3 separate regions of the Homo sapiens genome follow, and regions 2 and 3 are each linked to region 1. Evidence: fine-mapped expression QTL. A gene starts in region 1. Each other region holds a variant in brackets. All regions are shown on one strand. Distances are between the middles of the regions.

Region 1 (10,772 bases):
GAAGTTTTCCAGTTCAGAAGGAAAAGCTCTTTCTCAAACACTCTTGGCCACAGCGGGAGGAAGCCTTAGTGCATGCAGAGAGTCGTGTGCTGGTAACGGGGCAATTAAAACAGTACTGGTTGAAGAACCAGGAGATCCTGGGGTGCCCCAGCCTCTGCCCAACTTGCTCTGTGATGCAGGCAAGGGGCTTGGCCTCTCTGGGACTCAGTGCCCTTGTGTGTGCTGAACTTGTGTTAACTGGGGGCGGACTCTAGGCCCAGACCCTGACTCCAAAGTATGCACAGCCGATTCCCAGGCAGGCTGGGAGGTGTAGCTAGAACTATAGGCATATGCCTCCGAGGACACAGATCCTATGGCCCGAATTTTCCTGGAACACTTCTGGCTGACCTGCTCCCTTCGTAAGAGCCATGTGTGTACTTGATCACACATCCTGGGTTTTAAAATATAATTTGTCACTATAATAAAGTCATGAGAGTCTAGTTCATCCATTTCACAGACCAGTAACATTTCCAAAGAAACTCTGGGGAACCTGCAAAGGACTGAAAGTTGTTATTCTGCCAAGGAAGGCCCTTAGAACCAAACGACAAATGGTGCTGGAAAAACTGGATATCCACATGCGAAAGAATGAAACTGGACCCTTTCCTTACACAACACAAAAATCAACTCAAAATGGATCGAAGACTTAAGACCTGAAACTATAAAACTTACAGAAGAAAATATAGGGGAAAAGTTTCATAGCACTGGCCTTAGTAATAATTTCTTGAATATGGCACCAAAAGCACAGGCAAGAAAAGCAAAAATAGACAAGAGGGACTACATCAACCTAAAAAGCTTCTGCCCAGCAAAGGAAACAAGAGTGAAAGGCAATCTACTGAATGGGAGAAAATATTTGCAAACCATATATGTAATAAGAAGTTAATATCCGGCCGGGCACAGTTGCTTACGCCTGTAATCCCAGCATTTTGGGAGGCTGAGGAGGGTGGATTCACGAGGTCAGGAGATCGAGACCAGCCTGGCCAATGTGCTGAAACCTCGTCTCTACTAAAAAATACAAAACTTAGCTGGGCATGGTGGCGTGTGCCTGTAATCCCATAATCCCAGCTACTCAGGAGGCTGAGGCAGGAGAATCGCTTGAACCCGGGAGTCGGAGGTTGCAATGAGCCGAGATTGAGCCACTGCACTCCAGCCTGGGTAACAACAGTGAAACTGCGTTTCAAAAAATAAATAGGCCGGGCTCGGTGGCTCACGCCTGTAATCCCAGCACTTTGGGAGCCTGAGGCGGGCGGATCACCTGAGGTTGGGAGTTCAAGACCAGCTTGGCCAACATGGTGAAACCTTGTCTCTACTAAATAATACAAAAATTAGCCAGGTGTGGTGGCAGGCACCTGTAATCTCAGCTACCTGGGAGGCTGAGGCAGGGAGAATTGCTTGAACCTGGGAGGTGGAGGTTGCAGTGAGCCGAGATCACGCCACTGCACTCCAGCCTGGGTGACAGAGAAAGACTCCGTCTCAAAAAAAATAAAAATAAATAAAAAATAAACAAATAAATAAAAATAGGCCACGCACAGTGGTTCACACCTGTAATCCCAGCACTTTGGGAAGCCGAGGTGGGCGGATCACGAGGTCAGGAGTTTAAGACCAGCCTGGTCAACATAGTGAAACCCTCTCTCTACTAAAAATATGAAAATTAGCTGAGTGTAGTGGTGGGCACCTGTAATCCCAGCTACTCAGGAGGCTGAGGCAGGAGAATCATTTGAACCCAGGAGGCAGAGGTTGCAGTGAGCCAAGATCTCACCATTGCATTCCAGCCTGGGCGAGACTCCGTCTCAAAAAATAAAAATAAAATAAAAATAAAAATAAAAAATAGGCAAAGGACTTGAATAGGCATCCCTCCAAAGATGACATGCAAGTGGTCAACAAGAACATGAAAAAGTGCTCAACCTCACTGATCACCAGAGAAATGCAAATCAAAACCACAATGAGCCATCAACTTACACCTGTTAGAACTGCCATTATTTAAAAAAAAAAAAAAAACAACAGTGTTGGCAAGGATGTGGAGAAGTTGAACCCTTGTGCATGGTTAGTGGGAATGTTAAATGGTGCAGCTGCTACAGAAAACAGTATGGAGGTTTCTCAAAAAATTAAAAATAGAACTACCATATGATCCAGGAATCCCACTTGCAGGTATTTTTCCAAAAGAATTGAAATCAGGATCTCCAAGAGATATGTGAACTCCCATATTGATTGCATCATTATTCACAATAGCCAAGAGGTAGAAACAACCTAAATGTCCATCCACAGATGAATGGATAAACAACATATGGTGTGTACACACATTGGAATATTATTTAGCCATCAAAATAAAGAAAGCCTGTCATGTGCTGCCATATGGATGAACTTTGATGACTTTATGCTAAATGAAACAAACCAGTCACAGAAGGACAAATAATGCATGATTCCATTTATATGAGGAATCCAAAGAAGAAACAGAAAGTAGAAGAAAGAAAAAAAATAAAGACAAAAAAATTTTAAGTAGAAAAAAGAAAGGGAAAAAATAGTAGAATGGGCCAGGCACAGTGGCTCACGCCTATAATCCCAGCACTTTGGGAGGCCGAGGTGGGCAAATCACCTCAGGTCAGTTTGAGACCAGCCCGACCAACATGGAGAAACCCTGTCTCTACTAAAAATACAAAATTAGCCGGGCGTGGTGGCGCACACCTATAATCCCAGCTACTCGGGAGGCTGAGGCAGGAGAATTGCTTGAACCCAGGAGTTGGAGGTTAAGGTGAGCCGAGATCGTGCCATTGCACTCCAGCCTGGGCAACAAGAGTGAAACTCTGTCTCCAAAAAAAAAAAAAAAAAAAAAAAATAGTAGAATGGGGGTTGGGTTGCCAGGGGCTGAGGGGGAGTGGGGAACAGAGAGTTGCTGTTCAATGGGTATAGAGTTTCAGTCACACAGATAAAAATGTCCGGAGGTCTTCTGCACAACATTGTGGTTATAGTTAACAATACTGTAGCGTGCACTTAAAAATTTAAGAGGAGCCGGGGCAGTGGCTCACGCCTGTAATCCCAGCACTCCGGGAGGCCAAGGCAGGCGGATCACAAGGTCAGGAGTTCGAGACCAGCCTGACCAACACAGTGAAACCCCATCTCTACTAATAATACAAAAAATTAGCTGGGCATGGTGGTGGGCGCCCAGTAGCTATTACAGTAGCTAGCTGTAATCCTAGCTACTTGGGAGGCTGAGGCAGGAGAATCGCTTGAACCCAGGAGATGGAGGTTGCAGTGAGCCGAGATCCCACCACTGCACACCAGCCCAGGTGACAATGCAAGACTCTGTCTCAAAAAAATAAAATAAAATAAAATAAATACACACACATAAAATATATTACATATATATTATACATACATACATACATACATATGTATTAGCTGGGTGTGGTGGCGCATGCCTGTAGTCCTAGCTACTCAAGAGGCTGAGGCAGGAGGACTGCTTGAGCCTAGAAGGTCAAGGTTACAATGAGCTATGATTGCATCATTACACTTCAGTCTGGGTGACAGAGCAAGACAATATCTCCAAAAAAAAAAAAATACTTCTTCAATTTAAATAGCTTTAGTTTTGTGGGAAAAACCAAGAACCACAGTGTGCCTGTCTCTATTTCTTGCTCTTGTTCCCTTTTATTCCCTCCTGAATTTCTCACCACACCAGGCCTTTTTGTTCTGGGACTCTTCCTCCTCTACCCTCCCCACTCCCTCCCCTGCCTCCCCCAAGCTCACAGCATTTCACACAGTTCCAGAAAAGTGCTTCTCTCCCTGACTGCCACCTGGCCCTGCTGTCTTCCCACAGGGCTGTGGGCTCCGGCAGCAGAGACCTTTTCCTACTCCCTGTGCCCCTGCATCTAAACAGACCCAGCATAGGAGAGGGGCCTGGTGAAGATGGCTGGTAGGAAGGCACTAGACTCGGGCTTTGAGAGCCAGAAGGCCTCAGGGAGTGAAGAATATGGGACTGGCAGGATCTAGGGGCTGAAATGAGTGGCCATAAAAGAAGCCCCCTCAAGACCCAAGACTCCTTGGTAGTAAGGGCTGGGCATCTCTCTGTGTCCCACCTCACACCCTGGGGCGGGTGAGGAGAGGAAGTGGAGGGGTTGCAGGGTTGGGGGAACAAGCGACAAGCCCGCCCTCCTGAGGAGCCCCAGGGCTGGTACAAACGGCAGGAAGAGGCTGAGCTGGGCCCCTGGAGCCACAGAGGCAGGAGGGAGTGAAGAGGCCCTGTGGCTGCCATGGGGGACAGTCCAGCAGCCTCCTCCTGCTCCCCTCAAGACTGGCCGGAGGTGTCTCAGCCCCCGTAGCCAACCACAGAGAGAGCACAGGGCGGAAGTGGCTGGCGCCTCAGCCATAGCTGCCGGAGATGGGCTCAACGGCCACACGGTCCCCACATTCGGGGAGCCTCACCGCAGCCCCGTGGGCACAGAGACCCAGGTGGAGCTCCAAGGGACACATGAGGCACAGGGAGTCTAGGGCAGCAGCTTCAAAACCACACACTGGTCTTTCTGCTGGCTTTTTTGGTCACCATCCCCTGCTTAAAACCCCAGGGTCACCCCACACTTTCAGCACAGACAGGCTGCATTCCACCCACCTGCAGGCTCCTCTGCCCGGCATTCATCTGTGCCACCTGCCCCGGCCATTTGGCTCCGACTGCAATGACACGTTTGTCTGGGAGATTCTTCAAGGGCACATAAAACATATCTGCCTTTGCTCACTGTGATGTCTCCGACGCAAAGCAGAGAGCCCGCCAGCGTAGCCACTCAGAGCTGAGTGGTGGTGGAATGAGTGAAAAGGCTGCAGCTGGAAGGGCTGGGAGGCGGGGGGCAGAGTGGGGGCAGCCAAGGGTTTTGGGGATCACACAGGCTTGGGAAGAAAAGTCAGCTCAGACCCACTGGCTATGTGACCTGGCCCTGCAGGTCCAACTGTCAATGGGTCTAACCCCGCCCACCTCAATGATCTGTGAGAGCTGAGCGGGGGAGACACTGTTCAGAAAAGACTGGGTCCCTGAAACTGTTGTTGTCGTTTAATCCAGCCATTTTTTTTAAGTTTGTTTAAGAGACAGGGGTCTCCCTATATTTCCCAGGCTAGTCTTGAACTCCTGAGCTCAAGCAATCCTCCCACCCTGGCCTCCCAAAGTGCTGGGATTACAGGCGTGAGCCACCGTGAGCTTGGCCCCAGCTCTTTCATTTATGGACAGGACATTTCAGGAGAGGGATCCATCCAGTCTCATCTTGGTGTTTAATATTTAAATGCACCAAAAATGGGGTGCCAATTGGTGCCAACTTTTTGGAAAGAGACTTTGATGTAATCTGCCTAAAAGTAAAATGCTCATGTTCAGCAACTCAGCCCTTCAGCTTCTAGGAATTTTGTTCTGCAGGGAAAAAAAAATGCTGTATTTGTATTATTAATATTGTTACTGGGTGGCAGGGGGAGGAAAGTATTCAGTGTTTTCAGAACCACCCACCAGGAGGCGCTTTTGCATCAGGGGCCCAATCAGGTTAGCCCAGAGCACCTGGATTTAAGTAGCAAAAACAAATGACAATCTCTAGCCCAATGTCTCAAGAACATTCCAGTCTTTTACTTCATCTCACCCTCGAAACTTCCTTTTTTTTTTTTTAGACAGAGTCTCACTCTGTCACCACGGCTGGAGTGCAGTGGTGCAATCACAGCTCACTGCAGCGTCGACCTCCCAGACTCAAGCAATCCTCCCACCTCAGCTTCCTAGGTAGCTGGGACTAGGTGCACATCACCATGCCTAGCTAATTTTTGTATTATTATTTTTTTTTTTGTAGAGATAGGGATCTTGCCATTTTGCCTAGGCTGGTCTTGAACTCCTGGGCTCAAGCAATCCTCCTGCCTCGGGCCTCCCAGTTCTGGGATTACAGGAGTGAGCCACTGCGCCTGGCCATGACCAAAACTTTTATTAGAGACAGTATCTACTTGCTTGGTGCCCTCTCTGCCCTTCCTCCTAAAGAATCCCCCTTCAAAAGGAAAAAAAGGCCATTCAAATTTGAGAGAGACTCAGGGGTCCAGAGTAAACTAAGTTAAATGAAATCAAACCTGGACCGTGGGCTTCAAGTGTGTTATTAACCCCCTCCCTCCTGTCCTGCTGCATCCTTGGCTCTGCCCTTTCACTTACGTCCACGTCTCTAAACCCAGCCGTTCTTCCTTCTCCCTTGGGTCTCTGTGTCTTCTGTCTGCCTCAGGTGTCCTTCCACACGCTACCCACCCGCCTAGGGAATACTCCTTCTGAGTTCCTGGGCAAACCACCCAGTTCTCCTCCTGAACCCTCCCCCAAAAGGCTCCCTGCACGTTCCATCTCATGAGGGCCAGGCTGTGCCCAGGTGAGGACACTCATCACCTCCACTTTTCCCATCACACTGGTGTGTGGAGCGCCCACCCCACCTGGGATGTAGAGGGATGCTCCTTGCCCAGCAGTGCTTCTCCCTGGGCCTCAGTTTCCCAGTCTAGGGTACCCCCACACCTCTCTCAGCTTGGGCGTGCTGTACTTTACCCCATGTCAGCAGTTCTCATTAAGCTAGTCTTTAAAGGAGGAAAAAATAATTTTAAAAAATCTTCCTTTGTTCTGGCCTCCGGTCTATTTACAATGACAGTTCATGAGGAACTGGGTTCTGAGCGAAAACAAACAAAATGCCTCCATTTTAGAAGGGGTAAGGTCTGGAGGGGAAAGAGGGAGATAGGAAAGAACCTGTGGTGGCCTATCCTCTCCCCGTGACAGGAAGGCCTTTGAACAACACAATTCTGATTGTGCTGTTGCTACCTCATTTCAAATCCTTCCCCCTGCCCCACCCTCCAGAAGCAGCACCTGGCATGGTAGGCAAAGCCCCATCAGCTCTGGCCTGCACGACTGGCGCTCCAGCTTTGGCTGTCCTCCCGCAGCCCTGGGATCCCTAAGCCTAGAATACGCCACGCCCATTCCCCCACCTTCCCCACCAGCCGAATTCCCCTTCCGCTGGGGAGACTCAGGTTGGGGGTCAATCTTCAAGAAGCCTCCCTGTCCAACCCACTGAGGCAGGTGGCCTCAGGGTCAGGGCTCCAGGTTTCCCCCACGCCCACCCCACTAACACACACACACACACACACACACACACACACACACAGCCACCTGGGAATTCCAGGGAGCACAGCTGCGAGGGCAGCAAGGACCACAACAATGCTGACCACAATAGTGGCTCCAGGAAGGCCTGTTCTTGTTCCGGGCGGGAGGCCTAAGGCAGTGATGCTCCCTGGCAGCCTCTGGAAGCCCAGGGGAAGCCAGTTTCTATGTGGGATTCCCTGACTCTGGCCCATGGGCTTAGGAACACATTGTGTCCCTCCACTCCCAGGGCACTGAGTCCCAGCTGTGGGGTCATCTGAGTCCCACAGCACACCTGCTCATTTGTTCATTCATTAGTTTATTCATTCATTCAACAAATATTTATTCAGTGCCAGGCTTTGGGCCAAGAAGAGAAAGCCACTAAAAAGAGCAACAGATAAATACACGGTTGCACGTGATGTCAAGTGTCATAAGGCATGATGGGGTGTGAGAGGATGCAGAGCCAGGTGGCCAGGGAAGGCCTCCTAGAGATGATGCTTGAGCTGAGATGTGACAAATGAGGAGGTGTTAGCCTGGGAGGCCACTGGAGGCCGGAGCAGCAGAGGGAGTGCAGGCATGGAGCGGCTGGCCAGACACGAGGCAAGAGGAGAAACAGAGGCTGGATCATGCAGGACTGTATGATAGGTGGGGAAACCGAGGCATGGAAACTGGTGACTTGCACATGGCCCTGCAACTAGTTAGATGCTCGCTTCCTAAGTGCCACCCACCCCAGGAACCAGGCCTTCCCATCTGAGCATGGGATGCCTGCACTGCTCTTCTTCGCAGTGGAACAAAGGAACCCGTTTTTTTTGTTGGTTTTGAGACGAAGTTTCGCTCTTGTCGCCCAGACTGGAGTGCAATGGCATAATCTTGGCTGACTGCAACTTCCGCCTCCTGGGTTCAAGCGATTTTCCTACCTCAGCCTCCTGAGTAGCTGGGATTTACAGGTGCCCACCACCATGCCCAGCTAATTTTTTGTATTTTTAGTAGAGACGGGGTTTCACCATGTTGGCCAGGCTGGTCTCGAACTCCTGACCTCAAGTGATCCACCTGCCTCGGCCTCCCAAAGTGCTTGGATTAGAGGCATAAGCCACCGCGCCCGGCCTCAAATGGTTCTTAATCACCTAGTGTCTGTCATGTGTCCACCCGGGGTTACCCAGGGCAGAGACGGCATCATCTCCATCTCAGAGGCCCAGGGCCGGGTGTATTGTAGGTGTTTAATAAACACTTGCTTAATTGGATCTTGGTATCTCCAGGATGTAGGCCCCGATGCTGCCCTTGACCACATGGCTCCCTGAGTGTTAACTGAACCAGCAGAGTTGGTCTTGCAGCACGTGCATCTCATTCAGGCCCACTGCATTTTCTGGCCCTCACTGCTAAGAGTCCGTGCAGAAATGTGAGTTCTCAGCAGTGCTGAGAGCACTGTGTGCCCCCAAAGAGCTCTGACTCTCAGCTCCCCACATTGGTTTCACCTCTAATTTGTACCCCTCTAGCTCAAACCTTAATGGCGAAAGCTTGACATCGCCTTTGGCAATTCAGAGGCTATTACTTGTCAGCACTATCTACCTTGTCAGTGCCTGGGAGAAGCAAACCCCACCTCATAAGCATGTATCAAGCAATCACTTATCAAGCACCTCCTAGGTTCGGGATCTTTTAGAAAGCCCCACTTGGGGAGGTGCGATGGGGAATGGCTCTGGGCCTCCCCATAGGCCAGTTTATCAGCTCTCACAGAGGAGCACAAACCACTGGCTCAGGACGTGCAGGTGCGAAGGAAAGAGGAAGGGCGTGGTTGGCAGCCCCTCTTTCCCTGGGCAGTCTGAGTCACATTCCACCTCTCCCAGTGTTACAGGGTTTGTGAAATGACCACAGCTCCTCACTCTTCTGAGGAGAAACCAGAGGTAGAGGAGAAAGCACAGAGTAGTGCAGAGGGAGGAGCCCTGCCTCCCCTCCACACCCTTCTAAGACTGTTAACATGTCCTTCCAGCAATGTCAGCCAGTGTCAGCTGTGGGGTGCATCAGAATTCTGGAAGCCCAGAAGTCCAGGAATTTGCCATCCAGACGGTGAGACATATGCATAGAGAAGTGCAGCACAGGCTGGGTGCAGTGGCTCACACCTGTAATCCCAGCACTTTGGGAGGCCGAGGTGGGAGGATCACTTGAGCCCAGGAGTTCAAGGCCAGCCTGAGCAACAGTCTCAATAGTGACTGTCTCTATTTAAAAAAAAAGAAAAAAGAAAGAAAGAAAGAAAGAGAGAAGTGGCTGGGCGCGGTGGCTCATGCCTGTAATCCCAGCACTTTGGGAGGCTGAGGCAGGCAGATTACCTGAGGTCAGGAGTTCAAGACCAACCTGGCCAACACAGTGAAACCCCATCTCTACTAAAAATACAAAAATTAGCAGGGCGTGGTGGCACGTGCCTGTAATCCCAGCTACTCAGGAGGCTGAGGCATGAGAATTGCTTGAACCTGGGAGGCAGAGGTTGCGGTGAGCCGAGATGGCGCCATTGTACTCCAGCCTGGGCAAAAAGAGTGAAACTCGGTCTCAAAAACAATAAATAGAAGTGGCCGGGCATGGTGGCTCATGCCTATAATCCCAGCACTTTGAGAGGCCAAGGTGGGCGGATCCCCTGAGGTCAGGGGTTCGAGACCAGCCTGGCCAACATGGTGAAACCCTGTCTCTACTAAAAATACAAAAATTAGCCAGGCATGGTAGTGGGTGCCTGTAATCCCAGCTACTCAGGAGGCTGAGGCAGGAGAGTCACTTGAACTCAGGAGGCGGAGGTTGCAGTGAGCCAAGATCGCACCACTGCACTACAGCCTGGGGGATAGAGCAAGACTCTGTGTACAAAAAAAAAAAAAAGAAGTGCAGTGCAGGCAACTGGTGCTCAGATGGGAAGGCCTGTCAGGGCACTGTGTCGGGGACAGAGATGGTTGCCGCCATCCTGGGACAGTGTCCAACATAGTGCAAGAGATGGGCTGGGTGAGGCATAATGCCAGCGATGACAGCAACCACCCCCAGTGGTGCTGGCTGTCGTTGACTGTGGTTCACTGTGAGTGCCAAACACACATGCTTTGCTGCATTTACTCCTCCAGCCCCGGAGTTGCCACTGCTCCCATTTCAGAGATGGGGAAACCGTGGCAGGGAGACTTGCCCATGGGCCCCCAGGCAGTAAGAGTAGGGCTGGAGGGAAGAAACTGGCAGGCTGGTTCCAGAGACCTCCCTCTTAGGTATCACTGAGAGGGGCTTCCAGGCACCTCTGTGTGGTTGAACTTGCTGATCTGTTCAAACTGCTGTCATATAAGGACGTTCAACTTGATTTTCAGCATCACCAGCAACCTTGCTGCTCCTTCCCCCTCTGGGCTAGTAGGGTGAGAGCTCTTCTCAGAGACAAAGACCAGGATGCAGGAGCAGGCATGGCTTGGCCTGCAGACAAGACTGGTAGGAGGAGGAGACCTGGACCCAGTTGCTCTAAATCTAGCAAAAAGATTTTCTAGGCCCTCCAGAGGCTACCTCCTCCCCTTAGCTCCCACTGCCTGCAGCCGCCTGCAAATTGCTTAGAAGTGTTGATAATTACAGCAGGCCCAATCCCATCAACACCTGAGGGAGAGGAAACTGGAGGGTCCTCCTTCTGTAA
Region 2 (10,772 bases), 40 kb before region 1:
CATGGGGGATGAGAGCAAGGGAAGGATTCAGGCTGCCTGTGCCCCTCCCCAGACCTTGGTCATCGAGCCGCTGACCAGGGCCCTGCTTGGGGGACAGACACTCTAAAATAAAAGGGTAAATATCTGTTGAAAGAGAGCCCGGCCCCTGCTCACCACCAGACATTAGGGCCTCGGGGAGAAGGCCTTCTGCTCAGCTAGTGCGGGTGGAGGGAGAGCAGCCTGGTCCCTGGCACAGCCTTCTGGGTAGGGACTGTCTCAGCCTCAATGGCCTTTGGACCTCCCACTTTCAGTCCCAGCAATAAATCTTCCCAACAGCACACGGTTTTCTACCTGAAAAGCTCTTTCCATCCAGCATCCTCTGCTAGCTTCAAACAGCCCTGGCACTGGGCCAGGCAGGGAGGCACAGCCATTGCAGAGGTGAGGAAACTGAGGCTCAGAGAAGTGAGGCTCAGAGATCTGCCCAGGCATGGAAAGGGGAGGGACCATGACTAAGCACCCACTAAGTTACAGGGGCCTTTGCAAACATCACCTGGGGCTGCAGCTAGAAGGCGGAGAGTAGAACTTGAAGTCAGGAGTAGAACTTGAACTTCCGACTGATTCCCTGGTCCTGGGCTCCCCTGTCCTCCTGAGACAGAGGCTAATAGGAGCCAAGACGGGGCCATTCCTTTTAGCACCATGTTTTCTGAGAATATAAGCTGGAGAGGGTGGGGCAGGAGGTCTGAGACAAACAAAACTGCACTTTGGAATTATCCAGTCTGACTGCAACCACCTCTATCTTACAGATGGGGAAACTGAGGCTCTGGCCTGGCCCAGGCCCAAAGAACCCACTGTTTCCCAGATCTTGGAGTAGCTGAGACTGGGTAAGTAAGTCCCACTGATCCCAGAGCTCTTTTTGGATCCAGCTGTCCACACAGCATCTGGGGTTTTAATTGGGTATTTTGGGGAAGGATTCTGAATGCAAATTTGGAAGAGAGCTCTGGGCCAGCCCTGCAGCTAATGTCAGCCATGGGAACTCACAGGCCACTGGGTTAGAGTGATGTGGATCAGGTGTGATGCAGAGGAGCATGTGAGAACCAGCACCAGCCACTGGTAGGACTCGCATTAGTGCAAGTGACCACAATGGTGGGTGCCAGGCACCATAAGGGAGAAGATGGTGGTGGGGCCTTCAAAGAGTGCCTGGAGCGTGGCGAAGCTTCCGGGCGGCGTGGCGAGGCTTCCGGACGTCGCACTACGACTGTTATTGTCCTTGTCCCTCTGCACCAGATCTCCATCCTGGCTGTTTTTCACAGCGTCCCCAGAAAGACTCTGTGAGGGAAGGTCTATTATTATCTCCATTTTCAGGTCGGGGGGCATTTAGATGGGAGAGAAATTTGGGGACTGGGGGAGTTCTTCCCCTTCTCCCTGAAATTGCCCCAGGCCGGGGACCCTGTCTCCCACCCACCAACAGGGCAAGCCAAGATGGTTGAAAAGTTCTCCTTGGCCCAGCTTTAAAAGCCAACCCAACAGAGTGATTGGAAGTCCAAGAGTAAGGAGAGCTTAGTTTGGACTTCCCAGAAGGCAAGTTTTTATATAATACCGATCACAAATTTGGTACCCGTCCTCTTCAGTAGTGCCAGGGGTTCAGCTGGGTACCTATCTTGGAGAAACTGCTGGAGTGCACAGTGAGGCCTGTTCAGGGCTGTGTGTGGGAGTGAAATAATGGAAATGTCCATTTATAGGCCAGAGGGCAAATAAAGGATGGACCAGCTCACACACAGAACACTGCACAGCACGGAGGAGGAGGCAGGTCTGTATGCACTGACTCAGAAATGTCCATGACACGTTGTTCAGTGAAAAAGAAGGCATTGGCCGGGCGCGGTGGCTCACGCCTGTAATCCCAGCACTTTGGGAGGCCGAGACGGGCAGATCACTTGAGCCCAGGAGTTTGAGGCCAGCCTGGACAACACGGTGAGACCCCCCATCTCTACAAAAAAAAAAAAATACAAAAATTAGCCAGGCCTGGTGGTGTGTGCCTGTAGTCCCAGCTACCTGGAGGCTGTGGTAAAAAGATTACTTGGGCCTGGGAAAGCAAGGGTGCAGTGAGCCGAGATCACACCACTGCACTCCAGCCTGGGGAACAGAGTGAGACCCTGTTTGAAAAAAAGAAAAGAGGAAAGGAAGGAAGGAAGGGAGGAAGGAAGGGAGGAAGGGAGGGAGGGGAAAAAAAAATAGCCCGGGTGCGGTGGCTCACACCTGTAATCCCAGCACTTTGGGAGGCCAAGGCAGAAGGATCATTTGAGCTCAGGAGTTCATGACCAGCCTGGCCAACATGGTGAAACCCCGCCTCTACTAAAAATACAAAAATTAGCTGGGTGTGGTGGTGTGCACCTGTAATCCCAGCGACTTGGGAGGCTGAGGCATGAGAATCGCTTGAACCTGGGAGGCAGGGGTTGCAGTGAGCCAAGATTGAGCCACTGCACTCCAGCCTGGGCAACAGAATGAGTCTCTATCTAAAAAAAAAAAAAAAAAAAAAAAAAGAAAAAAAGAAAAAGAAAAAGAAAGCATCTTGCAGAACAAAACATACAGAATGTTACTACTCACGTGAGACGCATACCTAAACACAATATGCACATCTAAACAGATATAAATATAGATAGTCTAGGTATAGGTGTTGGTACAGGCACGACACAGGCATAGGTAGTGGCATAGGTATAGTTACAGATATTGGTATAGGTATTGGTATAGGCATGGCATAGGTATAGGTATATACACTGACCAGCTGACAACAATGGTTTAAACAGAATGGGGCTCAGGAGGTAAAGAGGAATTACATGGCCTTTTATTCACTACATTTTATTAATGTTTGAGATTTTACAATGAGAATATTTTCCTGAAATATTCGTCTGATGCTAAAAATTAAAGAAGAAAAGCAGCTGGCCACATGGCTGGGAGCCTGAAGCAGGGCTCAGTCTGGGCGCTCATAAGAGGCAGGGTCTGTGGGGGTCAGGCCTGTTTGGTAGTCTCAAGCTACATCTGGAGACTCTTCCTAAATCCACTGTGGCTCCCTCTCCCCAAGGCCAGAGCCAGAGAGAGCTGGTTTCCACAGCAGCAGTAGCATACGCAGGTCCCTGCAATCTGGAGGTATGTGACACCGGGACATTTACCCTGTGCGGTGGGCCCACCTCTGCCACCTCTGCTCCTTGAGGCAGGGCAGGACTTCAGAATTGGCCAGAGGGCGACCTGAGACATGCAGGCAGAGAAGGGAGCCAGTGACCTCTAGGACCCCCAGGGCTTAGGCAGGATGCCGCGTGGAACCCAGAGCAGTCTCCCCAGCCTGGGCTTGCATTTGAGCCTCACAAATACCGCACTGGGGGAGGCAACAGCCCGTCTGTGCCCCTGCACTCCCAGCAGTCAGCAAGGTCAGGAGTGGGAGAGGGGAGAAGGCCTTTCATGGAGCACTCCTTAGATGCTGGGCCCTGAGCTAGACACATTTCCTACTCCCTAACTTTGGCCTTTAAATCTCGTTCAGTGAGTTCTTTTTGACACATGGAAGCTTGGGAAGTTTTTCGGCCAGCTACTGAAAACAAAGGGGTAAAATAATTCAAACAAAGCAAAGGGATGTACAGTGAAAAACAAGTCTTTTCTCCTCAGCCCCCAGTCCCCGCCCGGGAGAACCCATGTGCGCACTGGAGCACATGCACGTGTGTTCCTGCCCCCTCCTTGGTACTAACAGAAGCGCTCCCCACAAAGTGCGCTGTATCTGGCCTTTTTCACAAAAAAAACATGTATCTCAGAGCTTCTTCCACAGCAGTACACGGGACCGCCTCGTTCTTTTTCATGCCTAGAATTCCATGGCATGCAAAAGTCTTTAGTATTCATGTAACCAGATCTAGAATTCTGGCTCCATGGTTTTCTGCCTTTTCCATAGGCTTATTTCTGTTCTGCACAACAGCCCTGGGAGGCAGGTGGTCCCTGTGTTAGAGATGAGGAAACCAGGGTGACGGGATTAGTCTGTTCTCACGCTGCTGTGAAGAAATGCCCGAGACTGGGGTAATTTATAAAGAAAAGAGGTTTAATTGACTCACAGTTCTGCGTGGCTGGGGAGGCCTCAGGAAACTTACAATCATGGTGGAAGGCAGCTCTTCACAGGGCGGCAGGAGGGAGAGTGATACTGAGCAAAGGGGGAAGCTGCTTATAAAACCATCAGATCTCGTGAGAACTCACTCACTATCATGAGAACAGCATGGGGGAAACTGCCACCATTATTCAATTATCTCTACTTGGTCCTGCTCTTGACACCTAGGGATTATTAAAATTCAAGGTGAGATTTGGTGGGGACACAGAGTCAAACTATATCAGTGACTCACCATCCCAGTTTGCCTGGGACTGTGCCAGGAAAACCCTCAGTTTTGGACAAACCAGGATGGTTGGTCACCCTAAAGGTAAACTGAGGCTTGGAGGGTAAGGACATTCTCCAAGATCTTGTGGTTGATCCGTGGAGGCCTGGGATGGCCACTGAAGTCCACCTGATGGTGATGATACTCTAGGAGGACAATGATCATATAGTAAGTGTCTCCTCTGTGCCTGCCCCTTCTTCAGCCCTCATAACAGCCCCAGGAGGCAGACAACGAGGCACAGATAGAACTTGTGACAGGCGAACTGGGGTCAGATCTCAGCAGCAGGGCTTGGCTGTGTGACCACTGTGGTCAGCTCCTTCTCAGCCTCCTGTCCTGGGCCCACAGCAGACATACAACAAATGTTTGTTGAGGGGAAAAAAAGGCATGAATGAAGTATTATTATCCTCATTTTATGGGAAAAACTGAGGCACAAAGAAGCTGTCCCTGGCACAGGGTCACAATTTGAACCTGGACAGGGGCTCCAGAGCCCATGACACGTTTCCCTCTTGTAGAAGGTCCTTGTCTGTAACCTGGTGGTGCCTCCTGCCTCTGACTCCTCCGGCCAGTCGCCCTGACAGCCCCCTCACCGCGTTGCACTACCTGGTCCCCTGGTCCCAGCCTCCTTTCATGGAAGGAGGTCTTGCCGTCTGCCTCCCTACTCCTGACTTGGGGCCCCTGCTCTGAACCTTCCACCCCGTCCGCCTGGACTGGATGCTTCTCCCGGATCCTGATGCCTGAGCTTCAGCTTCCCCACTCCGGACTGTTTCATGCGTTCATTCATGTGTCCAACTCTTCACTCCTTTCCTCAACAAACATTGACTGAAATTGAAATGAGCCAGTTCTACCCCGGTGTTGGGAATTCCGAGATGAATCCAGCCTGAGCTTTGTCCTTGGGGGACACAGAAAACAACAAAGAAATGGCACTTGTTACCCAGAGACCCAGAGAGATGCAGCTCTGATGGAGATGGCGCAGGCACGGGCTGCTGGGGCTTGAGTTCAGGGGTTGGGGGGAGGTTCCTAGCCTGGGGGCTCTGGAAAAGCTTCCTGGAGAAGGTTATGCTGGAGTCTGGAAAGATAAGAAAGAATTAGCAAGACAGGCATTGGGAGGGGAGGCGAGAGGTACTGTGACATCATGGACAAAGCGGTGGAAGACAGCGTGAGACATTCAAGAAGTGCACGTTGTTCCTTACAGCTGGGTCCAAGCTGTCCTCAGGTGTGGACGCGTGGCTCTAGGAAGCCCAGCACCCTCCCGAGTACCTAGCCAGCTCCGGGCCCAGCAGGGCTTCCGAGAATTTCATGTCCAGAAATTTATCAGAAAAAAACACAACAAAACAATCAGCAATGTGGACATGAAGTTACGCAGGACGGAGGATGTTTACTGCGGTGTTTTTATCACAGAAAACGAGTGAAACAGCCTCTGTGCCCAGCCACGAGAAGGGGCCACACTTGTCAAAGGGCCACCACCGGCTGGAGTCATCCAAAAGGCTGAGGAGTCAGATTTCAGAGACTACTTAAAGGCACCAGACAATGCATCTGATGTAACTGTAGGTAAAAGACAGCAAGAGGCAAACTATTTTTTATTAGGAGACCTACATATGCATATATATATATATATGAAATGATATTAGGAAGAAATGTGTCAAATGCTTCACAGTGGTTATCTCTGGTGATGGACTAACCTGGGGGTTGTAGTTCCTTTTTAAAAATAATTTCAGCCAGACGCGGTCTCTCACACATGTAATCCCAACACTTTGGGAGGCCAAGGTGGGCGGATCACTTGAGGCCAGGAATTTGAGACCAGCCTGGCCCATGTGGCAAAACTCTGTCTCTACCAAAAATACAAAAATTAGCCGGGCATGGTGGTGCATGCCTGTAATCCCAGCTACTCAGGAGGCTGAGGCAGGAGAATCACCTGGGAGGCGGAGGTTGCAGTGAGACAAGATTGTGCCACTGCACTCCAGTCTGGGGAATAGAGTGAGACCGTGTCTCAAAATAAATAAATAAATAAAAATGGGCCAGACACGGTGGCTCATGCCTGTAATCCCAACACTTTGGGAGGCCGAGGCAGGCAGATCATGAGGTCAGGAGTTCAAGAGCAGCCCGACTAACATGGTGAAACCCCATCTCTACTAAAAAATACAAAAATTAGCCAGGCATGGTGGCACATGCCTGTAATCCCAGCTACTCGGGAGGCTGAGGCAGAATTGCTTGAACCCGGGAGATGGAGGTTGCAGAAGGCCAAGATCGCACCACTGCACTCCAGCCTGAGTGACAGAGTGAGATTCCATCTCAGAAAGAAAAATAAATAAATAATAATAATCATTTCCTCGGCTGGGCACCATGGCTCATGCCTGTAACCCCAGCACTTTGGGAGGCTGAGGTGGGGGGATTGCTTGAGCCCAGGAGTTCAAGACCAGCCTGGACATGAGGATACCTTGTCTCTACAAAATACAAAAATTAGCTGGGCATGGTGGTGTGTGCCTGTAGTCCCAGCTACTCGGGAGGCTGAGGTGGGAGGATCGCTTGCCTAGGTGACAGAGCAAGACCCTGTCTAAAATAAACATTCCTGTGTTCTCTGATTTTGTAATGGTGGGCCAGTCTCACATTTTCATTTTCAGAGACAGATTCTAGGAGGCAACTCCATGAGGCCACAACTTCTCTTTCCAGCATCCTCCTGAGCCATGCCTCCCAGCCCAGCAAAAACCCCCAGGGAGCCACCCGGAATGACGTGTCGTCCTCCCATCCCGTGTACAGTGAGCCCACGTGCTCTGACTCCTGCCGTTCCTGTCTGAATGCCCTCTGCTTTCTCTCTCCATCTGGCACAGTTCCCCCAGCCCCCAGGCCCCCCTCAGGGTCCTTCCACTGGGGAGGTCATGCACACCGAGCACCCTTGCCACTGAACAACGGGTGTGCATGCCCAGATACTTGCCTGGATGGTGAGCTGCTGGGGGAAGGACCTGCCTTACCTCTTTCTTCCCCAGGGGCTTTATAGGGCCCAGGATTTATTTCTATTTGTTTCCCGCCTCCAATATCTTATTTCGAAAATGTCCAAACCAAAGATAATGGTATAATGAACACCCTTCGCTTAGATTTGCCACAATTTGCTTTTTCTCTCTCTCTTTGTCTTGCTGAACTAGTGCAGACATCTGAACACTTGGCCAGGGCTGGGGATTTGGAAGGTGCTTAACGCCTGCTGGAATCAACGAAAGGGAGAGCAAGGACACGGCGCTGCTCCCCTCTGCCTTTGGCCCCAGTGGATAACCTTGCACAGCAAAGCGCTGGCCTTTCTAAAATGCTAACACAGAGGAGCTGCCCACCTACTTGGAGGCTGGCTGCCAACAGTCAGCACAGCCCCTCTGCAGACACGCAAGGCCCCTGTCATCCCTTCCTGCCTCATCGCTCACTGAGCCCTGGAAGACAGCCTCGTCCTCACACCCACCTGCGCCCCCCATGTGCTGCTGGACTTGGGCCATGGAACCTCTGTCCTCCCCGCTCACCCAGGGAGGGCATATATCTCTTCCATGTCCCTTGCAAACCTGACATCCTCAGAGAAGTGGAGGACTTCCCTGATATTTCCTCTGCCCCTTGGCACCAAGGGCAGCCTCTGTTGGAGTGACCCATTCATCCTGGTCTGCCCAGGACTGCCCAGTTTTAGCAATGAAAGTCCAGTGTCCTGGAACCCCTCAGGCCTGGGCAAACCAAGAGGACTGGTCACCCTGGCTTCTGTTGACTCTCACTGGGTGGGCAGGACATGTTCACACTCCCACTGCCGGGAGACAGCAGCCTGAGAGTCACCAGGGGCAGGGGCTGGGCTGCTCTCTACCTCCCCAACCCTGCCAAGGCCAGGCCACAGAAGAGGCCCAAGGACAGGCTTGCTGACGCTGGCTCACTGCCTAGAGGAAAGAAGAAATGAACCAGCACAGGGCTGGGTGCAATGGCTCACGCCTGTAATCCCAGCACTTTAGGAGAAGGGCAAGGCAAGTGGATCTCCTGAGGTCAGGAGCTTGAGACCAGCCTGACCAACATGGTGAAACCCCATCTCTACTAAAAATACAAAAATTA[G/C]CTGGGCGTGGTGGCAGGCGCCTATAGTCTCAGTTACTGGGGAGGCTGAGGCAGGAGAACCGCTTGAACCCAGGAAGAGGAGGTTGCAGGGAGCCAAGATCACGCCACTGCTGCACTCCAACCTGGGTGATAGAGCAAGACTGTCTCAAAATAAAAAGAAAGAAAGAAAGAAAAAGAAACGAATGAGTAGACAACGAAACAGTAATCTTGCCTCCTTCAAATCTGCTCAGATGTCACCTCCTCCATGAGGCCTTCCCTGACTGCCATCTCAGATGATAGCCTCCCCACTCCCCACCCCCACTTTACAGGCTTCCCTAGCATGTATCACTGACTGACATTCTCCATGTCATTTGTTCACTTTCACTAGGGTCCGTCTCTTGGACTACAGTGTCAGCTCCACATGGGCAGGGGTTTTTATCTGTTTTGATCACTGAGGTATTTCTGATGCTTAGAATAATAGGTGTTCAGTAAGAATTCATTGAATGAATGAATCCTTGCTTTCCTGCAAAAGATGGAGCCTCCTGGCCTTCTCACACATTTGGTCTTTTGTTTAATTTGTTCAACAGACATCAGTGCCCTCTGCGTCACTGTGTGTGCATGCATGCATGTGTGTGGGTGTAGGTGTGTGTGCATGTGCCTGTGTGTGTGCCTGTGTTTGTGTGTGTGCAGGTGCATGTATGGGCGTGTGTGTGCGCCCATGTGTCTGTGCGTGTGTGTGCATTGTGTACTTGTTGTTTGCATGTGTGCTTGTGTGTGTGTGTGTGTGTATACAAAGCAGAGTGCCCAATCTGATGGCAGGAGGGGCAGAGGCCAGGGTGAGGACTCAAAGAGCCATCATGCCTGGTTGTATGTGAAGCCAAGGACCTGGCATTTGGGGGTGGGTTCTCTGGGGCAGGACCCTGAGCTCTTTGCAACAGCCTTAAAAGAAAGCCTGGACTGTAATAACCATGGCCAACATATATTGAACACTTGCTATGTCCCAAGCACTGTTCTGTGTGCTTCATGTATGTTTTCTCAGTTAATTCTCAAATCTCTGACATGTAATTGTCCCCATTTTGCAGATGAGGCTGGGGAGCCTAAGTGACTTGCTCAGGGGACCACAGCAAGAAAGTGGGGGTCACAGTCAGACTCTGGAGGGTGCTGCTAACCCTGGTGCTGGAGACTCCATTTGCAGAAGAGGAAGGAGGATCAGTGAGGTGAAGTCACTTGCCCAGGGTCACAGAGGTGGTCTGCTGAGATTTACAGCAGGTCCAGGACACCAGAGGAGTCTGAGGTCCCACTTGGTGGCCACCCTGGAAGAGGTGAGGGTAACCAAAGGGAAGAGGACAGAGACCCAGAGCCAGGCAGGAGCTGTGCTTGAATGCAAAACAGCTGCACAAAACTGGAGGACAGGAGGGACCGGGTCTGACTGGGGAGATGGAGGCCAACTTCTCAGCAAAGCTGTCCTTGCTTCCTCTTCTCTCCTGAAAAATGGCCACAGAAGCCGTGGACCACCTGTCTCCAGGCCTCCACATGGGCTGGCTGCCATGCACTGGCCCTGGAGAGAAGCAGAAAGGGGGGGCGGGCAGCATCCCCTGTCCCAGGCCCCTCCTCCTGCGCTCCCGGCAATGTCGGCCTGACTCACCTGGTGATACCAAGTGTATATTCTGTGTCAGGAGCTGCGGTGTGCAACTCAAGATGCTCTGACTTACTTAATTCTTACACCCAACAAGTTCCAACAGGGAAACAGAGTTCAGGCAGCGAGGTAGCTGCCCAAGCCACCAGCAGAGGGAGGGTACAAGCCCCAACTATCTGGCTCCAGAGCCTGTGCCTCTAGCCCCTACCCAGGATGCAGAGCCCTGGCTCCCCTGGCTGGCCTGGCTCTCCGCCACGAGCCTGTGTAGTCCCTGACAGCAGACACCACCCACAGTGTTCCACAGTCCAGCAAAGGGCTCAGCACACAGCAGGCTCAGCTGAAAACAATCCTTGCTCTTTGAGATATGGGAACAGTGACTTCTTCCTTTGGATGTTTCTCCCTCTACCCAAGTCTGGGAAACAGTAACAGTCTCAGTTGGACAGTACCAACACCTTTCAAAGCTGCCCCTCCTTGGAAGGCCAAGAAGTGGGCAGAACATGGGCTTCCAACCAGGCCAACCTGGAAACGAACCCCAGTTCCACCCTGCAAATCACTGCACCTCCCTGAGCCTCAGTTTCCTCATCTGTAATATGGGGTTCATAAGTGTCATTATGAGGAGCATGGTGGTGTTGGCCTGTAGTCCCAGCTACTCAAGAGGTGAGGGCTGGAGGATCGCTTGAGCACAGGAGTTTGAGGCCAGCCTGGGCAACATAGCAAGA
Region 3 (10,772 bases), 27 kb before region 1:
ATTTGTTTTTGTTCTGTTTCTGTTTTTGTTTTTGTTTTTTTGAGACAGAGTCTCACTCTGTTGCCCAGGCAGGAGTGCAGTGACACGATCTCGGCTCAGTGCAACCTCCACCTCCCAGGCTCAAGTGATCCTTCCACCTCAGCCTCTTGAGTAGTTGGGACTACAGGCACCAGGCACACACCACCACGCCTAATTTTTGTATTTTTTGTAGAGACGGGTTCTCTCCATGTTACCCAGGCTAGTCTCAAACTCCTGGACTCAAGCAATCCTCCTGCCTTGGCCTCCCAAAGTGCTGGGATTACAGGTGTGAGCCACTGTGCCCAACCAAAATTGGGTTATTTGTGTCTTTATTATTAAGTTGTTGGAAGTAGCATTTAGAGCCAGGTCTGGCCCTTGCTTTACTATCAAATGGTGGACACTGCACACACCCCCATGGCATATGCCCCACCGCCAGGGACATCTTGAAGCCCCCTGCAGACTTGGCCCTGCTCTGAGCAGGTGGAAGAGTAAGTCCTGCTGGGGCCTGGCCCACAAGTGTCCAGTGAATGTCTATGGATGGACAGACAGACAAGTATATCTCTAGGAACGAGTAAGCCAAAGGGGAAGAAAAAACACACAGACCAAGAAGTCCACACCCCAGGAGGAAGAAACTGCTGAGGCCCAGCTCCAGGAGGTAGAGATAACACTTTTGGCGCGGCGAGAGGCCACCAGGCAACTGCCTCTTGTGTCCTTGGTGGCAGTAATCTATCTGGCCTGTTTTTACGTGACTGACTATTGGCCTGTCTGAGGCTGGGAAGGAGAGGCCAGGGAGATTAGCAGGGAACCCATAAGCCTATCTGTCTAGGGGCTTGTAAGGGGGGCAGCTGGTCAGAGGCGGGCAGGGAACTGGTGGGGTGTGTCCCTGCCAGCCTCTGGCCCCAGAAACTCACTGCTTCATCACCAAGGGCGCCTGCATCTTGAACACCCAGCTCTGGATTCTGACTACCTGGGTTTGAATCCCAGCCCTACCATCTCCTTGCTGTGTAACCATGGACAAGTTACTCTCCATCTCTGAGCCTCAGTTCACTCACAGCCTCACCTGTAGAATGGAGACAACCAGAGTGAGAACGAAATGAGACCCTAAGGCTGTGTCTTGGTGGGGCCAGGCTGCCGGTGGGAGGCTACAGACAGTGGGCAGGAGGGCTCACCCACAGGGCATCCCCAGACCCTGTACTCAGAGCCTGTCCCCTTGTGAAATGGAGTCACAGACTCTCCTGAGACCAGCCGCCGCATGAAGGTGCACCTCGGCCCAGTGCTGTGAGAATGTGGCTGCTGGTGGAGGCAGCTCCAAGAACCTGTGTGGTAAAGACAGGCTGGGAGGGGGTGCCAGGGCAGCCTCTGACTCAGGCAGCCTGGGATCAGTGTCCTACTCTGTCTTTTACCAGCTGTGAACCTTGGGCAGGCACTTGGCCTCTCTGTGCCTCAGTTTATCCTTTGGAAGACAGAGATGACAGTCATGCTTACTTTATAGGGTGGCTGTGAAGATTAAATGGGTTAATAGAGGTAAAATGCCAGTTAAAATCTCAGCCTTAAAATAAAGCCCAGAGCATCTCCTGAATTCATTTAACTTCTTTGAACCCCAGATTCTCCCATATTCCCCCGGATTCATCCAGCTGGGCTGTGTGGAGGACGGGAAAGTGTTAGACTATTCTGGCATTTCCCAAAGTGGATCCCATGGACTTCTAACTCACGGGATGCTCTAGGAAAATAAAAAAGGGCACCATTGTCACATAGGCCTGGGTGCTAGTGTAGACCCAGCCGCTTCCTGGAACCACACACACACACACACACACACACACACACACACACACACACACACACGAAAGTTTCTGCGAAACCCTGCAGTGAAGAGCTCTGTGGATGTTTGCGTTGTTTCTCAAATTTATTTGACGATGAACACCCTTTTCTGCCCAAGGTCGATTTAACATCCTCCTAGAAAACAATGATGGTCAAGGTCATTTCTATCTTGCAGCTTCCGTGAATCACAGAAAAGATGGGAAGATTTGCTAAAAATCATCATCATCACCTAGGAGAAGTGCCTTTCTGTTTTTAAAACCCTTTCACACTCACCACCATGAAAGCATCATGGCCCTGTGGGGCACTCTCAGCCCTGCCACAGGGATCAGAGAGGGTCAGAGTGGGAAGGCCACACCAGGGATACCCCACGCCCACGACTGCCCAGCCAGGACTGGCCCAGGTCCCTTTCTACCCCGCACAGCTGCCTCTGGCTACCCCAAACCAGACAGAATACCCAGAAGGTTGTCAGGACAGAAGGTGGCGTCTGCGAGGAGCCTTCTAGAAAAAGGAGTTGTAGCCAGGCACCGTGGCTTACGCCTGTAATCCTAGCACTTTGGGAGGCCGAGGCGGGTGGATTGCCTGAGCTCAGGGGTTCAAGACCAGCCTGGGCAACACGGTGAAACCCTGTCTCTACTAAAATACAAAAAATAAGCCAGGTGTGGTGGCGTACACCTGTAGTCCCAGCTACTCGGGAGGCTGAGGCAGGAGAATTGCTTGAACCCTGGAGGAAAAGATTGCAGTGAGCTGAGATCGTACCACTGCACTCCAGCCTGGGCGACAGAGCGAGACTCCATCTCTAAAACCAAAACAAACCAAAACAAAACAAAACACAAAAGAAAAAGGAGTTGCCAAAAAGAAGCCCTATGGGTTGAGCCAGCCCAGCCTCAGGCAAGGGAGATGTCAAGGATCAGGAGTCCCCTGGGGGCACCTGCAGGGGAGGCCCTGTGACCCTGAGCCTAATTAATTGGGAAAGTGCCCCATTCAAGTAGCCCCTCACATCTCCCTGTAAACATCTCAGCAAATCTAACATCCAGCAACCAGATTACATCTCCCAGAGAGTGGCCTCTTGAACACAGGACAAGGGCCAAAATTCTTCCCTAGGCCCTGCGAGGTT[T/TG]GGAAAATGAGCTTGATCAGCTAGTCAAGGGAGGAGACTGACATTTATTGAGCACCAGTGATGTGTCATGCATCGTGTACCTGTATGGTGAGATCTCAATTCTGATAATAATCCCTCTTCACAGATGGGGGAAACTGAGGCTCTCGGTGGTAAATTAACATGTCCAGGGATGCAGCAGGGCTAGGATTCAAGCTCCAAGATTGGGTTTGGCTCGCCAGCCCCAGTGCCACCACACGCCCCAAACCCTGTGCCACACCTCGCTCTCCAGGCCCCCTTCCCATTCCTAAGCCAGGTTCTCAGGGCCTCAGATATAAGAGGAATTGGTTGGGGGGCTAATGTGATCTGGCCCCTAACAGCCTGGCCCACACTGTGGATGGAGAAACTGGCACTTGGGTTTGTCGCTCGATGTCCTGGAGAATCGAGCTCTTTCAGCCCCTAGTACTCTGATCATCTGTTCAGGGAAGACAGGTAGAGAAATCCATTTTCTGGGTATGCTAAGCCAAAGGCCATGCCTAAGTCTTTGAATGCTGTGATCATTCCCAGCTGCCCTCAGGTGCAGCCTCCTGCCTGGCATCCCGCCCGGCTCACTGACCTTCCAGAATCCTGGCACTCAGGCTGGGGGTGTATGGAGGGGAGGGGGGCCCATCATACAAACCTCTCTGCAAAACCCCTATTCCTCTCCTTGATGACCCTGCCCCCCTGGGGGGATATTCTCCCAAACTGGGACTTCCCAGAATTTCTGGGTCAGCAAACAGACTGGCTGAGTGGCTGCAGGCCACTCCTCTCCTGCGAGACCTCTCCCCTGCACTGCTGCACGTCCTCCTGCCCAGCGCAGAAGCAGACATTGGAGAGGAGAGAGAGCCAGCACCAAGCCCTCCCAGCTTTCCCACCACACTGCCCATCTTCAAGCCCTCCGAGCTTTTCCACCATACCACCCATCTTCAGGCTGTCTGAGAGGCAGGCTTTCTTTCCTTCATCCCTGGCAGCAGATCCAGGTCACAGAGGGGCAGCTACTTGCCCAAGGCCACACAGTGAGGCAGCAGTGGGCATCACACCTGGGTCTGACTCACTCCAGAGTTGGGGACCTTTTTCCCAGTCCAGTACAGTGGCCAGCAGTGTTGAGGATGGAGAAGTGTTAGACTATTAGTGTGAGATCTGGAGCCTGGGCTCCCCAGCTTCCTCACTGGGTCACTTGGGGTAGACACCTCAACTTCTCTGTACCCCAGTTTCTCCATCTACACAGTGCTATCAGAGAGTCCCTGGCTTCAAATTCTGTGTAAGTTGTGTGGCCTTGGGTGAGTCACTTAACCTGTCTGTGTCTCTGCTTTCTCCAATTTAAAACAGAGTGGGCCTTAAGGTAAGGGTCAGTATGAGGATTTTTTTTTTGAGACAGAGTCTTGCTTGATCCCAATTTTTTTTTTTTTTTTTTTTTTGAGACAAAGTCTCGCTCGATCTTTTTGTTGAGACAGAGTCTCGCTCGATTTTTTGAGACAGAGTCTGGCTCAATCTCAGCTCACTGCAACCTCTGCCTCCTGGGTTCAAGCGATTCTCCCACCTCAACCTCCCGAGTAGCTGGGATTACAGGCACATGACACCACGCCTTGTTAATTTTTGTATTTTTAGTAGAGATGGGGTTTCACCATGTTGCCCAGGCTGGTCTCGAACTCCTGGCCTCAAGTGATCCACCCGCCTTGGCCTCCCAAAGTGCTGGGATTACAGGCATGAGCTACCACGTCTGGCCTAGTATGAGGATTAAACTGTGTGTCAAGGGCTTCCTAGCAGGTGGTGTCTAGAAGGCCCACACTGATGGCCTGCTGTTGTGGTCAAGATGGGGCTGTCTAGGCTGACTCCAGAAGGAAACACAAGGAATAGGCCCCAGAGGTCATCTCCGGGGAGGGAAACAGTTGGGGAAAGGGTGGGAGCCCTAACTTGTCCCTATAGGTTGTCTGCCACCTTCAGAATTGTGTATTGCAGTCACGCATTATTACTGTTACCACAGCTGATTACATGATGACTGCACAGAGCTGCTCCCCTGGCCTGACACATGCACTCATGCTAGCCAGAGGCCCCATGCATGCCTTGGGTGCCCAGGCCAGCTCCTACCACTTGCTTGGCTCATCCCTCCACAGCTACACCCATGCCTCACCCAGGCCCTTTTCAACTACCCCATGTCTCCCAGCAAGACCATGGCACAGCCTTGAGGGCCAGGAGGGTCTCTCCATCTAGCACACACTGGTCACTCACCACATGACACTTGATGTGAGTCTCTGTCCTCCATTGTCTCACTCATAAGTGGAGAGGCTCATGCCTCCCCCAGGGTAACTATAAGGATTAAAATAAAGAACTAGGGCCGGGCGCAGTGGCTCACACCTGTAATCCCAGCACTTTGGGAGGCCAAGCTGGATGGATCACCTGAGGTCAGGAGTTTGAGACCCGTCTGGCCAACATGGTGAAACCCCATCTCTACTAAAAATACAAAAATTAGCCAGGCGTGGTGACGTGTGCCTATAATCCCATCTACTGGGGAGGCTGTGGCAGGAGAACTGCTTGAACCTGGGAGGCGGAGGTTGCAGTGAGCCGAGATCCTGCCATTGCACTCCAGCCTGGGAGACAAGAGTGAAACTCCGTCTCAAAAAAAAAAAAAAAAGAAGAACTAGGGTTTGGCTTGGTGGCTCATGCCTGTAATCCCAGCACTTTGGGAGGCTAAGGTGGGAGGATCACTTGAGGCCAGGAGTTCCAAACCAGCCTGGGCAACATAGTAAGACCCTGTTGCTACAATATATTAAAAAAATTAGCTGGGTATTTTAGCACACGCCTGTAGTCCCGACTACTCAGGAGGCTGAGGTGAGAGGATTGCTTGAGCCCAGGAGATTGAGGCTGTAGTGAGTCAAGATTATGCCACTGCACTCCAGCCTGGGTGACAGAGCAAGACCCTATGTCTAAAAAAGTAAAATGGAGAACTAATGTGTGGAAAGCGCCAGATACAGTTCCCCACCCGGAGTTGAAAGGGTGAAACTACCACGGGTCGGGGAATTGCTCAGGGTCAGGTGCATAGCCTGGAGTGCAGGAGTGTTGGTCCCAGCTCCTTCCCCAGCCTCACCACCCACGGCAGGGGGCGTCGCCTTCCCCCACCCTTCCAGGCTCAGAGGGTGTCAGGTCCCTCATAGTATCTCCCCAATCCATTGATGGCACCTACAGCACCCTAGGCAAGCTAACCCCTACCCACTTCTCTCACCCTCTGTGCCCTCTGAGGAGCAGGCTTTCTTCCTCCATCCCTGGCAGCAGATCCAGGTAACAGAGATCTGCTACTTGGGCTACTTGCCCAAGGCCACACAGTGAGGCAGCAGTGGGTATCACACCCGGGTCTAGCTGACTCCAGAGTTGGGGTCCTTTCTCCCAGTCCAGTGCAGTGGCCAGGGGTGTGGGATCTGGAGCCCAGGCTCCCCAGCTTCCTCAAACAGCCTAAGCCCATCCTGCCTCCAGGCCTTTGCACTCCCCATTCCCTCCTCCTTCCCTGCCCTTCCCATCATTCAGGTTCTGCTCAGCTTTGCCTCCCTCAGAGGCTCTCCTGGACCACCCCTCCCGAAATGCCCCAATCCCTATTCTCTCTGTCTCTTGCCCCTGATTGTTTGCTTCATGGCACTAACCATTGCCTGAAACTGTCTTTTTTTTTTTTTTTTTTTTTTTTTTTTTTGAGACAGAGTCTCGCTCTGTCGCCCAGGCTGGAGTACAGTAGTGTGACGGTGGCTCACTGCAAGCTCCGCCTCCCAGGTTCACGCCATTCTTCTGCCTCAGCCTCCCGAGTAGCTGGGACTACAGGCGCCTGCTGCCAAATCTGGCTAATTTTTTTTTTTTGTGTGTGTGTTTTTAGTAGAGACAGGGTTTCACCATGTTAGCCAGGATGGTCTTGATCTCCTGACCTCGTGATCCGCCTGCCTCGGCCTCTCAAAGCGCTGGGATTACAGGTGTGAGCCACTGCGCTGGGCCAATAAACTTTCTTTAGGGAATAACTTAGAAATTATTTTGCAACAGAAAAATTGCACAGATAGTACAGGGAGTTCCTATTGGCCCTTCACCAAGTTTTTTCTTATGTCAACCTATTACCTAACCATGGTAAGTGGTCAAAACCAAGAAAGTGACATTGGTACATTACACTGATGAGCCGCAGGCTTTACTCCGGTGAAACTGTGTTCTTCCTTACTCATTTGTTCTCAGCTGCCTCCCCCATGAGGAGGCAAACTCTGAAAAGCAGGGAGGTTGCCTCTCCCACTGACATCAATTTCCTCATACCTGGCAAGGAGTGCTGATTGGATAAAGGAGAGGAAAGAATGGCAAAAACAGCCAATGACTATCAAGGACTCCTGCCAGACAGTGTTCCTAAGTGCTTTAAACACTGTAAGCCCCAGCCTGGGCAACATAGTGAGACCCTATCTCTACAAAAAATTTAAAATTAGCCAGGTATGGGGGCATGTGCCTATAGTCCCACCTACCAGGGAGGCTGAGATGGGAGGATCGCTTGAGCCTGAGAGGTGGAGCCTGCTGTGAGCTGTGATTGCACCACTGCACTCCAGCCTGAGCAGCAGAGTGAGACCTTGTCTCAAAAAACAAAACAAAGCCAAACAAAACCAGACCCAACACATAGTAAGCTGTTTAATCCTCACATCAGCCCATGAAGCAGCTATGAATCATAGGGGAACTAAGGCATGGTACGGTTTGGTGGCTGGCCCAAGGCCACAGAGATGGGCAGTACCAGAGTGGGTGGGTTCTAGCACACTCCTCCTGCCCCTGTCACAACACGCTGATGGCACCACAGGGTAACACAGCAAATGCCAGTCCCTCCATGTTCTCAGTCTACGAAACAGTGGAAGGGTCACACCTCCCACAGCCCAGCAGGAGCACAGGCTTGGGATGGAGCCTGAGCCTCTGCTTCTTGCTTCTGCCCACAGTGACTAGTGGCTATCCCGGCCCTGCACAGAATGACACAGGGGCTCTGTTCCGAGGGCCCTCAGCCTCACCCTTCTTCAGGGAAACAGAAGGGGGCTGGTTCGGCCCCGGACCATGGGCTCCCGCCAGTGCTCCCAATTCCCCAGACCCTGCCGACACAAAGCAGGCCTCAGCCCGCCCCGCTCCCTTGGCCCACAGCTTGGACTGGGCCTCTAGGATCTGGCTGCTGAGGGCCGGGTGCAGAGCATGGGCCCCTGTCCTGAGGTCCAGCATTCTCAGAGGAGCTTTCTGGGCTCTGGAAGAGAGAGGAAGAGGAAGACATGGTGTCCCTTTCCGGATGTGGGGTGGGAGTGACACACAGGAGTACTGCAGCCTCCTCCCAGCACTCAGGGACCAAGCCAGAGAGATGTGCCAGCGCCTCCCAAGGGAGAAGCCATTCTCCAGCAGCTGGACAGGACCAGAGCCTGCCCCGCATGTCCGGCCGGGGTTCTACCCAGAGCCAGCCTGGCACAGCCTCGGTCCCTAATCATGTTTGCTGAATGCCTTGAATACAAGCGCCGGTGCCCAGAATCTCCTTGAGGTTTCAGCTGGGCGTGCCGGGCCCATCCCCCACTCTGGGGAGCAGAATGATTGTGGGGGGTGGTAACAGGGGACACCCTGAGGTGGTGGTGGCCTTGGTAGGACAGGCAGGCAGAGCTGGGGGTGGGGGCGCCCTGGGCTCGGCTAATTAAACAGCGACCGTGATGAATTGGAGAGAAACTGCTGCTTGCTAATTAAAGGTGCAGGCAACTTGCCTGGCAAGGATGGGAGGCAGAAGTCCTGGAAACATGTTGAGGTCCAGGCCAGCGAGGACAGAGCTTGGCCAAAGTCCCCCACCGTGCCCATTCTGGGCATCCCTCCCATTGCCCTCCCCCGCCCAGCAGGGGCCCGCAGCCCCCTCCCCACTTCCCTATCTCTCCGACCCACCTTGCTGAGCCTGAGGCCTCCAACTTCCCCCCACCCCTCCCCACCAACCCAAATCCTTTCCTGATAAGGGCCTGGGTGTTGCGGAGGAGGAGGCTGGCGCTGGTGGCTGGGCTGGGGGTGGACTCGCTGAGCCTTTGAGGTCCTCCTTCCCGCCCCACCGCCAAGGTCCCAGAGGTGGGCAGTGAGTCCAGCCAAGACTGATGTGGCCTGTTGGGAACAAGGCCCCCAAGAAGATCATAGAATCTTAGTACCTGAGACTCGCAAGGGGCTTTAGGTCTTCCCTAATTTCCCAACAGTCCCCAGTGTCAGCCCAGGTGTGGGAGACAGGGACAGCACTTCTTACCCGGCTCAGCATTCCAGTTTTTGTAAAGGGAAAACTGGCCAGGCGAGGTGGCCACTGCCTGTGATCCAGCATGTTGGGAGGCTGAGGCAGGAGAATCGCTTGAGCCCGGGAGTTCAAGACAGGCCTAGGAAACATAGGAGACCCTCTCTCTAAAAAAAAAAAAAAAAAAAAAAAAATTAGCTGGGTGTGTTGGCTTGCGCCTGAGGGTTCAGCTACTCATGGGGTAGCTACTCAAGTGGGAGGATCACTTCAGCCCAGAAGGTTGAGGCCGTAGTGAGCCATGATCGCCCCACTACACTCCAAAGTGGGCAACAGAGCGAAACCCTATTCAAAAAAAAAAAGGAAAAGAAACGAGAAAATTGGAGCAAATGATCTCTGAGCCTTGAAGATTCTTACAGGGTGGACAAGAAAACCCCCTGAAGCTGCTCATCCCTGCCCCAAGTCACTTCAAAGCAGGGCTGTAGGCTCAGACACCTTTACCAACCAACGTGACCTCAGGCAAGGGAGCTCATTGTCACATGCCTGGGTTTCCCCATTTGCAAGGCTGGGGATGGCAACAGAGCCCACCTCAAAGGGTCTCTGAGAAGACTGGAGGAGATAACAAAGGTGAAGTGTCCAGCACAGCAACTGGTCTGACCTGAATAGCCAGCCACTGCCATCTGAAAGGTCTGGGGAACTGGGGGGTGACCTGGCACCTAGCCTGTCCGAGTCTTACCTCTTCATGTGGCAGCTGCAGTCTGGCACTCTGAGGAGGAGGATTAGAGAGCTTAAGTGACTTCTGCAAAGCCACACCACTACGGAAGAGGAAGAGGCAGCCTTGGATCCCTTGAGTGAGGAGAGGATGGGACCTGGATTCCTATGTTGACATTTGTTGAGCATCTACTGGATGCAGGGTCCTGAACAAGACCCCAGGAAGGGACTAAGATGAATCTGAGATTCACTCTGCCTTTAAGGGGACCCCAGTCTGGAAGGAGAGAGAAAACACACATACAAATAACTAGAATGCAAAGCAAATGTGGCTGGATGCAGTGGCTCACACCTGTCACTTTGGGAGGCTTAGGCAGGAGGATCACTTGAGATCAGGAGTTCGAGACCAGCCTGGCCAACACAACAAAACCTCGTCTCTACTAAAAATACAAAAATTAGCTGGGTGTGGTGGTGCACGCCTGTAGTACCAACTACTTGGGAGACTGAGGCACGAGAATCACTTGAACCTGGTGGGGCAGAGGTTACAGTGAACTGAGATCGTGCCAGTGAGCTGAGATCATGCACTTCAGCCTGGGCGACAGAGCAAGACTCCATCTCAAAAAAAAAAAAAAAAAAAAAAAAAAGCAAATACCCCTGGCATCAGAGGGGGCCCAGCAGCCCTCCATGCAAAGGGGCTGGGGTGAGACTCTTGGGATGGCGGGGAGATGCTGCTGTGTCTTGGAGCTCAATTTGCAAGGCAAAGGTTTTGATTTTATTTGAACGATAAAATCAGCCCTGGGGGTCATGGGGGTGCTGATGGAGCCTCCTCTGGCTTTTTTGGGAAGTTCTGGGTGGTCCCTGACCTCTGTGATTCCTGCTTCG

Alleles and levels. Positions count from the first base shown, and alleles are read on the strand shown. Sizes are in standard deviations (SD) of each study's normalised expression. Not every link is listed here.
In carriers of allele T in region 3, the expression in prefrontal cortex of the gene that starts at base 4,946 in region 1 tends to be lower than with TG alone (moderate effect, 0.44 SD a copy in CommonMind).

The links. PIP is the estimated chance that this variant, and not a neighbour inherited with it, causes the effect.
Region 2: its variant is the best candidate, but not a certain one, in a credible set for the expression of C20orf203 in whole blood (TOPMed, PIP 0.81).
Region 3: its variant is the best candidate, but not a certain one, in a credible set for the expression of C20orf203 in prefrontal cortex (CommonMind, PIP 0.60).

Annotation. Positions count from the first base shown.
Region 1 is chr20:32,668,996-32,679,767 of GRCh38, forward strand. It overlaps C20orf203 (chromosome 20 open reading frame 203), which reads right to left and starts at 4,946. Exons shown (of 6, transcript NM_182584.4): 1 at 4,637-4,946. RefSeq lists enhancers at 3,194-3,693, 5,644-5,713, 6,565-7,267, 9,627-10,226, 10,227-10,772.
Region 2 is chr20:32,628,829-32,639,600 of GRCh38, forward strand. It overlaps C20orf203 (chromosome 20 open reading frame 203), which reads right to left. Exons shown (of 6, transcript NM_182584.4): 6 at 2,797-5,442. Among named protein-coding and RNA genes, the nearest start is that of C20orf203, 40 kb to the right of the region's middle. RefSeq lists a silencer at 9,692-9,879 and an enhancer at 10,133-10,632. The variant G/C (reference allele first, on the strand shown) is at 8,439.
Region 3 is chr20:32,641,815-32,652,586 of GRCh38, forward strand. It overlaps C20orf203 (chromosome 20 open reading frame 203), which reads right to left. Exons shown (of 6, transcript NM_182584.4): 2 at 9,919-10,167; 3 at 9,204-9,352; 4 at 7,441-9,067. The coding sequence starts at 9,338. The coding sequence ends at 8,618. Among named protein-coding and RNA genes, the nearest start is that of C20orf203, 27 kb to the right of the region's middle. RefSeq lists enhancers at 5,844-6,344, 6,345-6,845. The variant T/TG (reference allele first, on the strand shown) is at 2,951.